Homo sapiens: one gene and its partners. The protein of the gene in region 2 purifies or fractionates together with the protein of the main gene of each other region. This does not show direct contact. Each region holds a gene or a part of one and is shown on either strand. Other genes may lie near its edges. The genes, in order: RIPK2, IRF4 and PRRC2B.

Region 1 (3,651 bases), on a different chromosome or scaffold from region 2:
CAAAACATTGTTTCATGGGTGGACACGATGGCTCAAGTCTGTGATCCCAGAACTTTGGGAGGCCAAGGTGGGTGGATCACTTGAGGTCAGGAGTTCGAGACCAGCCTGGCCAACATGACAAAACCCCATCTCTACTAAACATATAAAAATTAGCTGGGCATGGTGGCGCATGCCTGTAATCCCAGCTACTCGGGGGGTTGAGGCAGGAGAATTGCTTGAACAAGCCAAGATCGCACCACTGCAGTCCACCCTGGGCGACTCCACCTCAAAAAAAAAAACTTTGTTTCAGGTATAAAATTATTTTAAAATATTGAATTAAGTTACCTTCAGGCTGTGTGTATAAGGTGTATATGAAACATAAATGAATTTTATATTTAGACTTGGGTCCCAACCCCAAGATATCTCGTTATATATATACAAATATTCCAAAATCTGAAAAAAATCCAAAATTCCAAACACTTCTGGTTCCAAGCATTTCAGATAAGGGATATTAAACCTGTAGTATCTTTAAAACGAACCTTAAAGCATAGTATATCACATTTTTAATCACTTGATGTACAGTATTTCATTTGATCTTTGAGGCCATTCATGCATATTTTTAGATAGACAGTGCGGATAATAGAGCCAAAAACCTGAGAGCCAGAGAGGTTAAATACCTTATTGAAAGTTAGCTAGTGATTCCATGACAGAGCTAGGAGTAAAATTCTCCATTACTTTTTCCATGTTTTCCTGTGCCTCCATGTGGAAGGAACCTGAGGTGCTGAGAACAGGCATTTCTAAATCTGTAGGAGACCAGACTTGCAGATACCAAATTTCTCATTCACTATTCTAGCTACTGGCTGCAGCATCTGAGATCGTGTAGAAAATACTGAAAAAATAATTATTTCTAATGTTTCATTATTCCCCTATTTCGCCCATTTGTGTTAATTAAGAAAATAAGTTTATCTTTGTTGGTTATTTTATAGATGTATGTGTTTCTTTAATTTTGTAAAGTATAATTTTTAGTAGTTTTGTAGGTTGGGCACAATGGCTCACACCTGTAATTCCAGCACTTTGTGTGGCCAAGGCTGGTGGATCACTTGATCGCAGGAGTTTGAGACCAGCCTGGGCAACGTAGCGAAACCCCATTTCTACGAAAGATACAAAATTTAGCATGGTATGGTGGTGTGCACCTATAATCCCAGCTATTAAGGAGGCTGAGATGGGAGGTTCACCTGAGTTCAGGAGGGTGGGGCTGCAGTGAGCCTAGGTTGTGCCACTGCACTCCAGACTGGGCAACAGAGTGAGACCCTGTCTGAAAAAAAAAAATTAGTAGTTTTTATCTTCATTTGTGATAAGCCACAAACAAGAACTATTTAGAAATTAAAGCTCGATAATTTTTATTAACCTAAACCCTTTATTTTTTATTTACTTTAGGAATCATGTGGATCCTCTCAGCTCCATGAAAATAGTGGTTCTCCTGAAACTTCAAGGTCCCTGCCAGCTCCTCAAGACAATGATTTTTTATCTAGTATGTAGATTTTCCAATCATTATTTACTTGCAAGTTTTCCATTTTCTTTCAAGATCAAATTTTTGCAAGCAGTCATGATTTCTATGGAACTTTAATTTGCATATATAACTCATTTTGTAAAGCGACAGAGTCTAAAGATAGGAAAATAGTAGTGTGATATTCAACAAATACATTTAAGTTTTAAGGCATTATGTTTGGCCAGGCGCAGTGGTTCACACCTATAATCCCAGCATGTTGGGTGGCCAAGGTGGGCAGATCACCTGAGGTCAGGAGTTCGAGACCAGCCTGGCCAACATGGTGAAACCCCATCTCTACTAAAAATACAAAAATTAGCCAGGCATGGTGGTGGGCACCTGTAGTCTCAGCTACTTCGGAGGCTGAGGCGGAAAGATCGCTTGAACCTGGGAGGGAGGTTGCAGTGAGCCGAGATTGCACCACCACACTCCATCCTGGGCGACAGAGTGAGACTCTGTGTCAAAAAATAAATTTTAAAAAACAGGCATTATGTTAGACACTGCCAGAAAATGTCCGCAAAAAAATCTCTTACAAGAAAAAGGAGAAATGTTTCTAAATAACTATTATATGAGATAGTGATATAAGAGAGACGTGGATCTAGAGCTATGGTAGTACAGTGGAAGAGTAACACTGTACAAAGGACTTTCACAACAACCTTGTGAGAGAAATGTCCTCATTTTACACATTTAAGGACTCTGGATCACATAGCTAGTAGCTGGCACATCTAAGACTTTTGATAAATATTATCATGTCACTCTACTCTACCATGTTGTCATCATGAAATTATTTCTGGCTGAAGGCTGGATCTGTAATTACAAAGGATAGGCATTCCAGGCAAAAGGAACAACATACAGGTACAGAAGCAAGAAAATACAGAGAACAGTGAGTAATTTGGTTTAGCTAGTAAAGAAGGTGAATGAAAGAAGTAAGAGCTAAGTAGATTGGAGTCATATCATCAAGAATTCTAACTTTCAGCTGAACTATTTGGACTTTTTTACTTGAGTAGGAAGCAACTATTGCAATTTTTTGAGCAAGGGAGTGACATAAAATTTTTTACTTTGGGGAGATTCATTCTGGCTGGAATGTGTAGGATATTTTGAAAGGAAAAGGAAACTTGAGATGGGGAGATCAGTTAGGAGACTATTACTGTAGTACCCGTGAGAGATTATTAAGAACCGATACAGAATGAAAGAAAGGAGGGGTGGTATGTGAGATGTTATAGACAACTAGATGATAGGACTTTGTAACTTTTCACTTAGAGGAGCGATGAGAGAAAAAAGAGGTAAAGCCAAATAAATTGTTAAGCCTGGGGACTGGGAGAACATTGGTGCCATTAAAAGAAATAGAAGTTAAAACAGGCTGCATGCGGTGGCTCACACCTGTAATCCCAGCATTTTGCAAGGCCAAGGTGGGCAAATCACTTGAGGCCAGGAGTTCAAGACCAGCCTGGCCAACATGCCAAAACCCCATCTCTACTAAAAATACAAAAAAATTAGCGGGTATGGTGGTGCACACCTGTAATCCCAGCTCCTCAGGAGGCTGAGGCACAAGAATCACTTGAACCTGGGAGGCAGGGGTTGCAGTGAGCTGAGATTGCGCCACTGCACTCCATCCTGAGTGACAGAGCAAGATTCTATCTCAATTAAAAAAAAAAAAAGTTAAAACAAGTTTTAGAGTTAAGACGGATAATTATACTTTTAATGTTTTTGTTTTTGTTTTTAATTTGAGGTACTAGGAGCACACAAAGGGTTGATGGCCAGAGGGCTTTTGAAAATATAACACTAAGGTTCATGGCTGAGTGTAGTGGCTCACACCTGTAATCCTAGAACTTTGGGAGGCTGAGACAGGTGGATCACCTGAGGTCACGAGTTCAAGACCAGCCTGGCCAACATGGTGAAATTCCATCTCTACTAAAAATACAGAAATTAGCCAGTTGTGGTAGCATGCAACTGTAATCCCAGCTACTTAAGAGGCTGAGGCAGGAGAATCGCTTGAACCTGAGAGGTGGAGGTTGCAGTGAGCTGAGATCGCAACCATTGCACTCCAGCCTGGGTGGCAAAAGCAAAACTCCATCTAAGAAAGAGAGAGAGACAGAGAGAGAGAGAGAGGGAGGGAGGGAGGCAGG
Region 2 (3,651 bases):
AACTGGAGAGAGACCAGACCTGCAAGCTCTTTGACACACAGCAGTTCTTGTCAGGTAAGGCACCTCGTTATCTGTTAGAATGGAGGTGGTGATGGCCTGCCTGCCACAGGGGTCAGAAACCACAGGGTCCCTCCCACCCCAGGCTGAGGTCTTCCTCCTGTTGACTTCGGCGCCCACTGGGCTTGGGGCTTGACTCCAGTAGAGATCTTCTGTCTGGCTCTGTTGTGGGCAGAGAGTCCGGATCAGATGGTCCAGGTGGACCATGGCTCAGGCTGTTCTCTTGCAATTCTGGTTTTCAGCAGTCGCCTCTTAAAACAGTTCCATTTCATTGCACTATGATCTCGACAAATACGTCTGCTGATGTGGCGGCTCTTTTCAGGTTCCCAGAAAAATCATAAAGGTTGGAAGCATATTGTTAACATTCTTGGTTGTCAGGTGTGTCACCCTCATGCAGATGCTGGCCCACGAGTGAGACGGAGGGTGGAGTGGACTGTACTGGTTTTGCACAGGAGAAGTTATAGGAGAGTGCTATAAGTTGGCTCTGTGATATGAACATTTCTAAGCATATTTTTCAGAACCAGTGAGTTTTGTTTTTCTACCTTGGATTTCATGACAATTCAGCGAACCTCTGGCTGGCTTCTGTGAAGCCCCTCGCCCTGTCATGCTGGGCTTCCTCACTGGCTTTGTGGGGCTGTCCAGGTGGAGGGAGCCTCCCGCGTGGGAGGGAGCTGCTCTACCCGCCACTCGCCACCCCACCGCCAACTCTTCCTCTGCCTTTTCCCAGTCCTGTCCCTTCCTGAGCCCCTTCAGAAACTCCTGTGTCTTTGATTTCTCATGTGCCTCCCCTTTTCTTGAATGTGCTTCTTCATTCAACTTATTTAAAATAAAAATATGACACGTCTGTGTGCTCTGGCACTGTTGACATGTGCTCGTACTTCTGGGTGTAAGTGACCCAAGTTTTTGTAAGCTCATCCAGATTTTCTTTTGGTGCCCAAAGCAAATATGTCCCCAGATAACTAAGCTTCAGGCCAGGTGTGGTGGCCCATGCCTGTAATCCCAGCACTTTAGGAGGCTGAGGTGGGCAGATCACTTGAGGCCAGGAGTTCAAGACCAGCCTGGCCAACATGGCAAAACCCCGTCTCTACTAAAGATACAAAAATTAGCTGGGCGTGATGGTGGGCGCCTGTAATCCCAGCTACTCAGGAGGATGAGGCACAAGAATCGCTTGAACCTGTGGGAGGCGGAGGTTGCAGTGAGCTGAGATCGCACCACGGTGCTGCAGTTTGCAGGACAGAGCGAGACTCCATTGCCCCCCGCACCACAAAAAAATAACTAAGCTCACACAGAGGCTGACCATAGGAAGAGGGAGAACTGTGCTGGTTCCCCGAGGCGGCGGCAAGTGAGGAAGTCACCTGGGGCTGGACACCTCTCATTCTAAGGGCAGAACCATCCCCAAGCCCTGGCCAGGGCGGTCCCATCCTTCTTGGGGTTGGGCATGGTGTTCATGGGGGACCAAGGAAATTGAAGGGCAACTGGGGGGACCCCCCCTCCCCTGTCAGCATCTCCTGTGTCTGCCTTGGGATCTGGAAGAGCTCACATGGGCCAGGAAGGCTAAGGCCCACTGGGCCTGGATTTCTGAAGACTCTGGACCTTGGTGCCAGTGGATTCAGAAGATACCACAAGGTGAGGGCTTTCTAATGAAAGTGTCACAAGGAACTGGCACTGGCTTTTCTGAGTGCCTCTTGCTGGGCGTTTTTAGGGAGGTAGAGCCCCCGTGGTGACTAAGCTGGAAGGTGCACATTGAGTCACAGGTGCACTGCGTGAGAGACAGCACAGGCAGGGGGTGGACGCCTGTGAGTGTCCTGGGGCTGTAGACTTGCGCGACTAGAACTTACTATTAATCTGTGAGCAAGAGCTGGTCTTGGCTTTCATTCCTTCCTCTGTAACCAAGGGCTGTGCTCTTTGCCCACTGCAGCCTCTCACCTCAAAGTGTTCACTGAGGTTCAAGGAGGATGCTGTGAACGTAAAAACTGCAGCTGTGCCAACCAGCTTCTGCATAATTAAGGATTCCCACCAAACACTCTCATGTTATCTAGGGTTGGAGCCATGCTTTCTCAGAGAATTGTGCCAACTCGCCATTCTGATTAGCCTGTGTAGGTGTAGTCTCAGATCACGGCAGTGTGAATGTATTTTACAGATTCTGACTAAGTCATTTGGGTTTGATTTGAATTCTGGAAAAAAAAAAAAGCAGGAAGTCAAATAGTCCTGTAAGTTAGCTAGAAACTTCTGTTCAGTTGAAGAGAACAGTGGAGATCTTTGATATCTTCCTATTCAGGTCTGCACAGCACTAGGGACAGCCCCCAGGGCCCGGCCCGAGGGTGTGTATCTGATAAGGACGCGTCTGTTCTGCAGAAGCTGTAGCGGCTCCTGTGTCAACTCGTTTCTTTTGCGGGCGTGACATTTTATTGTAGCTACAGGCAGAAGATTTGTCTTGTGTACAGGGGAGGGAGCATGGGCTAAAGTCAGGGGATGGGCACTTGTCTTTCCAACAATGTTCCAGTCCGTTTTGTATCTTTTGGGTAGGTGTGGTGGCTTCAGGATGTACATGTGTATATCCACAAGCGGGAGGCCAGGGGGGCTGCCCCACTCCTGTTCTCAAGTCAAGTTACTGTTCCATCCCTGGAGACAGGCAAGAAGTCTACTCAGAGTTACACAGTTCAGGCATAGTGACAGTGGGACTCAGCTGCCGATGGCTGGTGCTCAGTCACCACGTTGACGTTACATATTTTCTGTGGTGCCTGAGTTACGTGGATGTCCGCAGTAGCACAGATACTGGATTATGTGGGCTCTGTAGTGAGGGGATGAGGTTTTAAAATGATCCTGGGATGTCGAAACATTCTGATTTTTTAAATGAAAACTTGTCCATGGCATAAATTGGTCTTTTGCCATTGCGTGACTACGTTTCTTGTTCTTTATCTCCCGACTTCACTGTGGTCTACTACCTTTTGAATCTTCGTGGGTCCAATGCTGCAAAGCAGTGTTCTTTAGCTGTCGACTAGTTCCTCTTGAAGAATCGAGGGAGACCGAGGGCCCTGGGGGGAAAGCACCCAAAGGAATGCATACATGCTATTTTGTATCTGAGATGTTCACATCAAGAGCCCCACTCAGCGGAGTAAGAGTGCTCATTCCTCTTGCAGTGTTCAGAATCACAGTAAGCTCTTGCTTCCTGTTTAACCTGGTGTGTTCGGTGATGAGGGTTTCTGAACATGGTCTCTTTCTTGTGGGCTTCTACAGAGCTGCAAGCGTTTGCTCACCACGGCCGCTCCCTGCCAAGATTCCAGGTGACTCTATGCTTTGGAGAGGAGTTTCCAGACCCTCAGAGGCAAAGAAAGCTCATCACAGCTCACGTGAGTCCTCAGTTACACTCCTACCATAGTGGCTTCCTGTTCTTTGTAAAGGCCAGAGTTTCATTTAGAAAAGTCCCAAATGAAAAGTAAATGTCAAATGACCTGGAAAAATAAGCGTAACCCTTAAACTAGTGAGGGAGGAAGCATGGTCCAACGAGCAGCACAGTCTGAGGACTCACGTGCTCCTCCCAGACTTGAGATCTGCTCATCAAAGAACCAGGGAGGACAGCCTCAAAGGAGGGTG
Region 3 (3,651 bases), on a different chromosome or scaffold from region 2:
TAGTAGAGACGGGGTTTTGCCATGTTGGCCAGGCTGGTCTCGAAATCCTGACCTCAGGTGATCCACCTGCCTTGGCCTCCCAAAGTGCTGGGATGACAGGTGTGAGCCACCGTGCCTGGACACCCAGGCTGTTTCAGACTCCTGGACTCAAGTGATCCCTCCGCCTCCGCCTATCAAAGTGCTGGGATTACAGGCATGAGCCACGGCACCCAGCAAGGCAGCCTCTTTCATGAGCCACTAGGTTCTGGGGGGTCTCAGTCCTGGTTAAGCCCTTTGATGAGTGGGGCTTGAGGTCTTACTCCATTTACTGGTTTGAACCTGGAGAAGCCTTTTGTCTTAAACAGTTTTTGTTTCTAGGGACATGGATGCCCCATTGACTCCTGGGGAGATCCTGGTCTGGTGGGGAGGAGGCCCTGGAGAGCCCCCCACCTAACTTTGGCCTCATCCTCTTGTGGTTTCTTTCTTTCTTTTTTTTTTTTTTTGAGACGGAGTTTTGCTCTTGTTGCCTAGGCTGGAGAGCAATGGCGCGATCTTGGCTCACTGCAACCTCTACCTCTCGGGTTCAAGCGATTCTCCTGCCTCAGCCTCCTGTGATTTCTTCGGAGCCCCCTACAGTTTCTCTTTATAGCAGTTTTCACAACTTGTAAATAGGTGTTTTTTTCTTTATTTGAATTTTAAAAATTGTGGTGAAGTATACATAACATAAAATTTACCATTTTTAAGTGTACAGTTGAGTGGCGTGAAGCACTTTCACAGTGTTGTGCAACCATCACCACCATCCATCTCCAGAACGTTCTCATCTTCCCAAACTGAAACTCTGTTCCCATTAGATGCCAACTCCCCTCCCCCATCCAGTGGCGGCGGCCACCATTCTTACCATTCTTTCTCCTTTTTTTTTTTTTTTTGAGATAGGGTCTCACTGTCGCCCAGGCTGGAGTGCAGTGGCACGATCTTGGCTCACTGCAACCTCAGCCTCTTGTGTAGCTGGGATTACAGGCACACGCCACCACACCCAGCTAATTTTTGTATTTTTTTGTAGAGACGGGGTTTCACCATGTTGGCTAGTCTGGTGTCGAACTCCTGGCCTTAAGTGGTTTGCTTACCTCAGCCTCCCAAAGTGCTGGGATTACCGGCATGAGCCACCGTGCCTGGCCTAGTTTTTGTATATTTTATTTTATTTTATTGAGACAGAGTTTTGATGTTGCCCAGGCTGGAGTGCAATGGCGCGATCTCGGCTCACTGCAGCCTCTGCTTCCTGGGTTTAAGAGATTCTCCTGCCTCAGCCTCCCGAGTAGCTGGGATTACAAGCGCCTGCCACCATGCCCAGCTAATTTTTGTATTTTTAGTGGAGACGGGGTTTCACCATGTTGGCCAGGCTGGTCTCGAACCCCTGACTTCAGGTGATCTGCCCACCTCGACTTCCCAAAGTGCTGGGATTACAGGCGTGAGCCACTGTGCTTGGTCTAATTTTTGTATTATTGTTATTATTTTTGAGACAGAGTCTCGTTATGTCTCCCAGGCTGGAGTGCAATGGCACGATCTCGGCTCACTGCACCTCTACCTCCCGGGTTCAAGCGATTCTCCTGCCTCAGCCTCCTGAATAGCTGGGATTACAGGTCTGGCTAATTTTTGTATTTTTAGGAGAAACGGAGTTTCGCCATGTTGGCCAGGCTGGTCTCGAACTCCTGAGCTCAAGCGATTTGCCTGCCTCGGCTTCCCAGAGTGCTGGAATTACAGCCATGTGTAATCCCATGGTGGCAATGTTGAGCCACCTTGCCCTGCCAACCATTTTACTTTCTTTCTGTGAAACCGAATACTCTTAAGTACCTCATGTAAGTGAGATCATCCAGTATTTGTCATTTTGTGTCTGGCTTATTTTTAGCATAGTATTTCCAAGGTTCATCCATGTTGCAGCATGTGTCAGAACTAACTTCATTCTTAAGGCAGAATAATATTCTCTTATTTGCATGTATCTACCACATTTTATTTATTCATTCAGCGACGGGCAGCAGCCTGTAGATAGTTTTGTTTTCATGTATTGAATGGTCCTTTCCCCCAGTGGAGTGAGTAAATGCATCCGGAAGCAGAATTCTGTTGTTTCCCATTCATCACTGTGTGCCAGGTGTCTGAGAAGGGGGTCTTATAGGAGCCCACGCAGAAACCAAGCTCACCTCAGTCTGGGTGTGGGGCAGTCAGGGAAGGCATTCTGGAAAATGTAGCTGACTCGAAATAAGCACCTATTGAAAATAGTGTGCTGAGCCCTGGAACATTAAAAATGTGTTCCTATGTGGAAATCAGAAATGTATGGGTCCCAGAAGAGAACTTGTGGGTCAGCCTGCTTTCCAGAGAGTGCCGAGGCCCTTTGAATGGTGAACATTATGCAAGCATTCTTGTATGGCCAGTGGCCAGCAGGGAGGAGGGCAGAGAATGACTGTGCCTCCGGGAAGCCGGCGTCAACTTCCCGACACGCTTCAGGATCATCTCTTTGTATAGAACCATGGGATGGATCGCTGCAGGACCTACTGGAAAAAGGAGGTCATCTCCAGGACTCTTTCCATGGGTCCTTTGTGTCTTGCAGAACTTTTTTCGGCAGGTGTTGTTTACATATGGTTCAGAGCTTAAAGAACAGCTGTGTTCCAGGCCAGGGCAGAAAGCACAGGCCTGTCTGGGAGGGGCATCATCACTCCTGCCTGCCTGCCCAACCGACCTGTCGGTGGACTGAATGGGCCAAGTGTTCAGAAGTCCTTGGGAAGAGGATAGTGTCCTGAATCATAATGTGGTATTTTCTGGTTTTTTGTTTGTTTGTTTGTTTTTGGTAAAATGTTAATTGCAGAAGTATACAGGTTATTTTATTTATTTATTTATTTTTTTTTGAGGTGGAGTCTTGCTCTGTTGCCCAGGCCGGAGTGCAGTGGCATGATCTCGGCTCACTGCAACCTCCACCTCCCAGGTTCAAGCAATTCCCCTGCCTCAGCCTCTTGAGTAGCTGGGAGTACAGGTGCATCCCGCCACGCCTGGCTAATTTTTTTTTGTATTTTAGTAGAGATGGGGTTTCGCCTTGTTGCCCAGGCTGGTCGCAAACTCCTGAGCTCAGGCCATCTGTCCACCTCAGCCTCCCAAAATGCTAGAATTACAGGCGTGAGCCACTGCGCCTGGCCCATACTTTAAAAAAAAAAAAAAAAACAAAATTAAAAGCCAAGTGTTTGAAGAGAAATGAAAGCTTTTCCCCAATGTCCCAGGCAGTAACCATTATTGATAAATTTGCTTTGTTTATCCTTCTAGGCTCAGTGCACGTATAAATATGGCCTCATGTAGGGAGGTTTTTTAAAAAACAAAAATGGGATATACTATATTGTATTGCAACTTGGCATTTTCAAAATATCACAGTATTTTTCCATACGTATTTTTAAGCGTAACTTCTCTTATTTTTATTTTCAGTAATACTTTTTTTTTCTTCCTTAGGGATGTGGGGGTGGGTCTCGCTATGTTGACCAAGCTTGTCTTGAACTCCTGGCCTCAAGCTGTCTTCCCATCTTGGCCTCTGAAAGTGCTAGGATTACAGGTGTAAGCCACCACACCCAGCCATTTTTCCATATTCATGTGAACAGACCTGCCACACTAAGTGTTTTAAAAATAATGTTAGGTTTCTAA

Evidence for each region.
Region 1: the proteins of IRF4 (region 2) and RIPK2 purify together in Homo sapiens (affinity purification with western blotting; one study listed by BioGRID). This does not show direct contact.
Region 3: the proteins of IRF4 (region 2) and PRRC2B purify together in Homo sapiens (affinity purification with mass spectrometry, with the first as the bait; one large-scale study listed by BioGRID). This does not show direct contact.

The regions. Positions count from the first base shown.
Region 1 is NC_000008.11:89,785,177-89,788,827, forward strand, and holds part of RIPK2 (receptor-interacting serine/threonine-protein kinase 2), read left to right. Parts: intron 1-1,416; coding exon 1,417-1,510; intron 1,511-3,651.
Region 2 is NC_000006.12:401,724-405,374, forward strand, and holds part of IRF4 (interferon regulatory factor 4), read left to right. Parts: coding exon 1-54; intron 55-3,294; coding exon 3,295-3,407; intron 3,408-3,651. UniProt on the Homo sapiens protein: Transcriptional activator. Binds to the interferon-stimulated response element (ISRE) of the MHC class I promoter. Binds the immunoglobulin lambda light chain enhancer, together with PU.1.
Region 3 is NC_000009.12:131,400,497-131,404,147, forward strand, and holds part of PRRC2B (protein PRRC2B), read left to right. Parts: intron 1-3,651.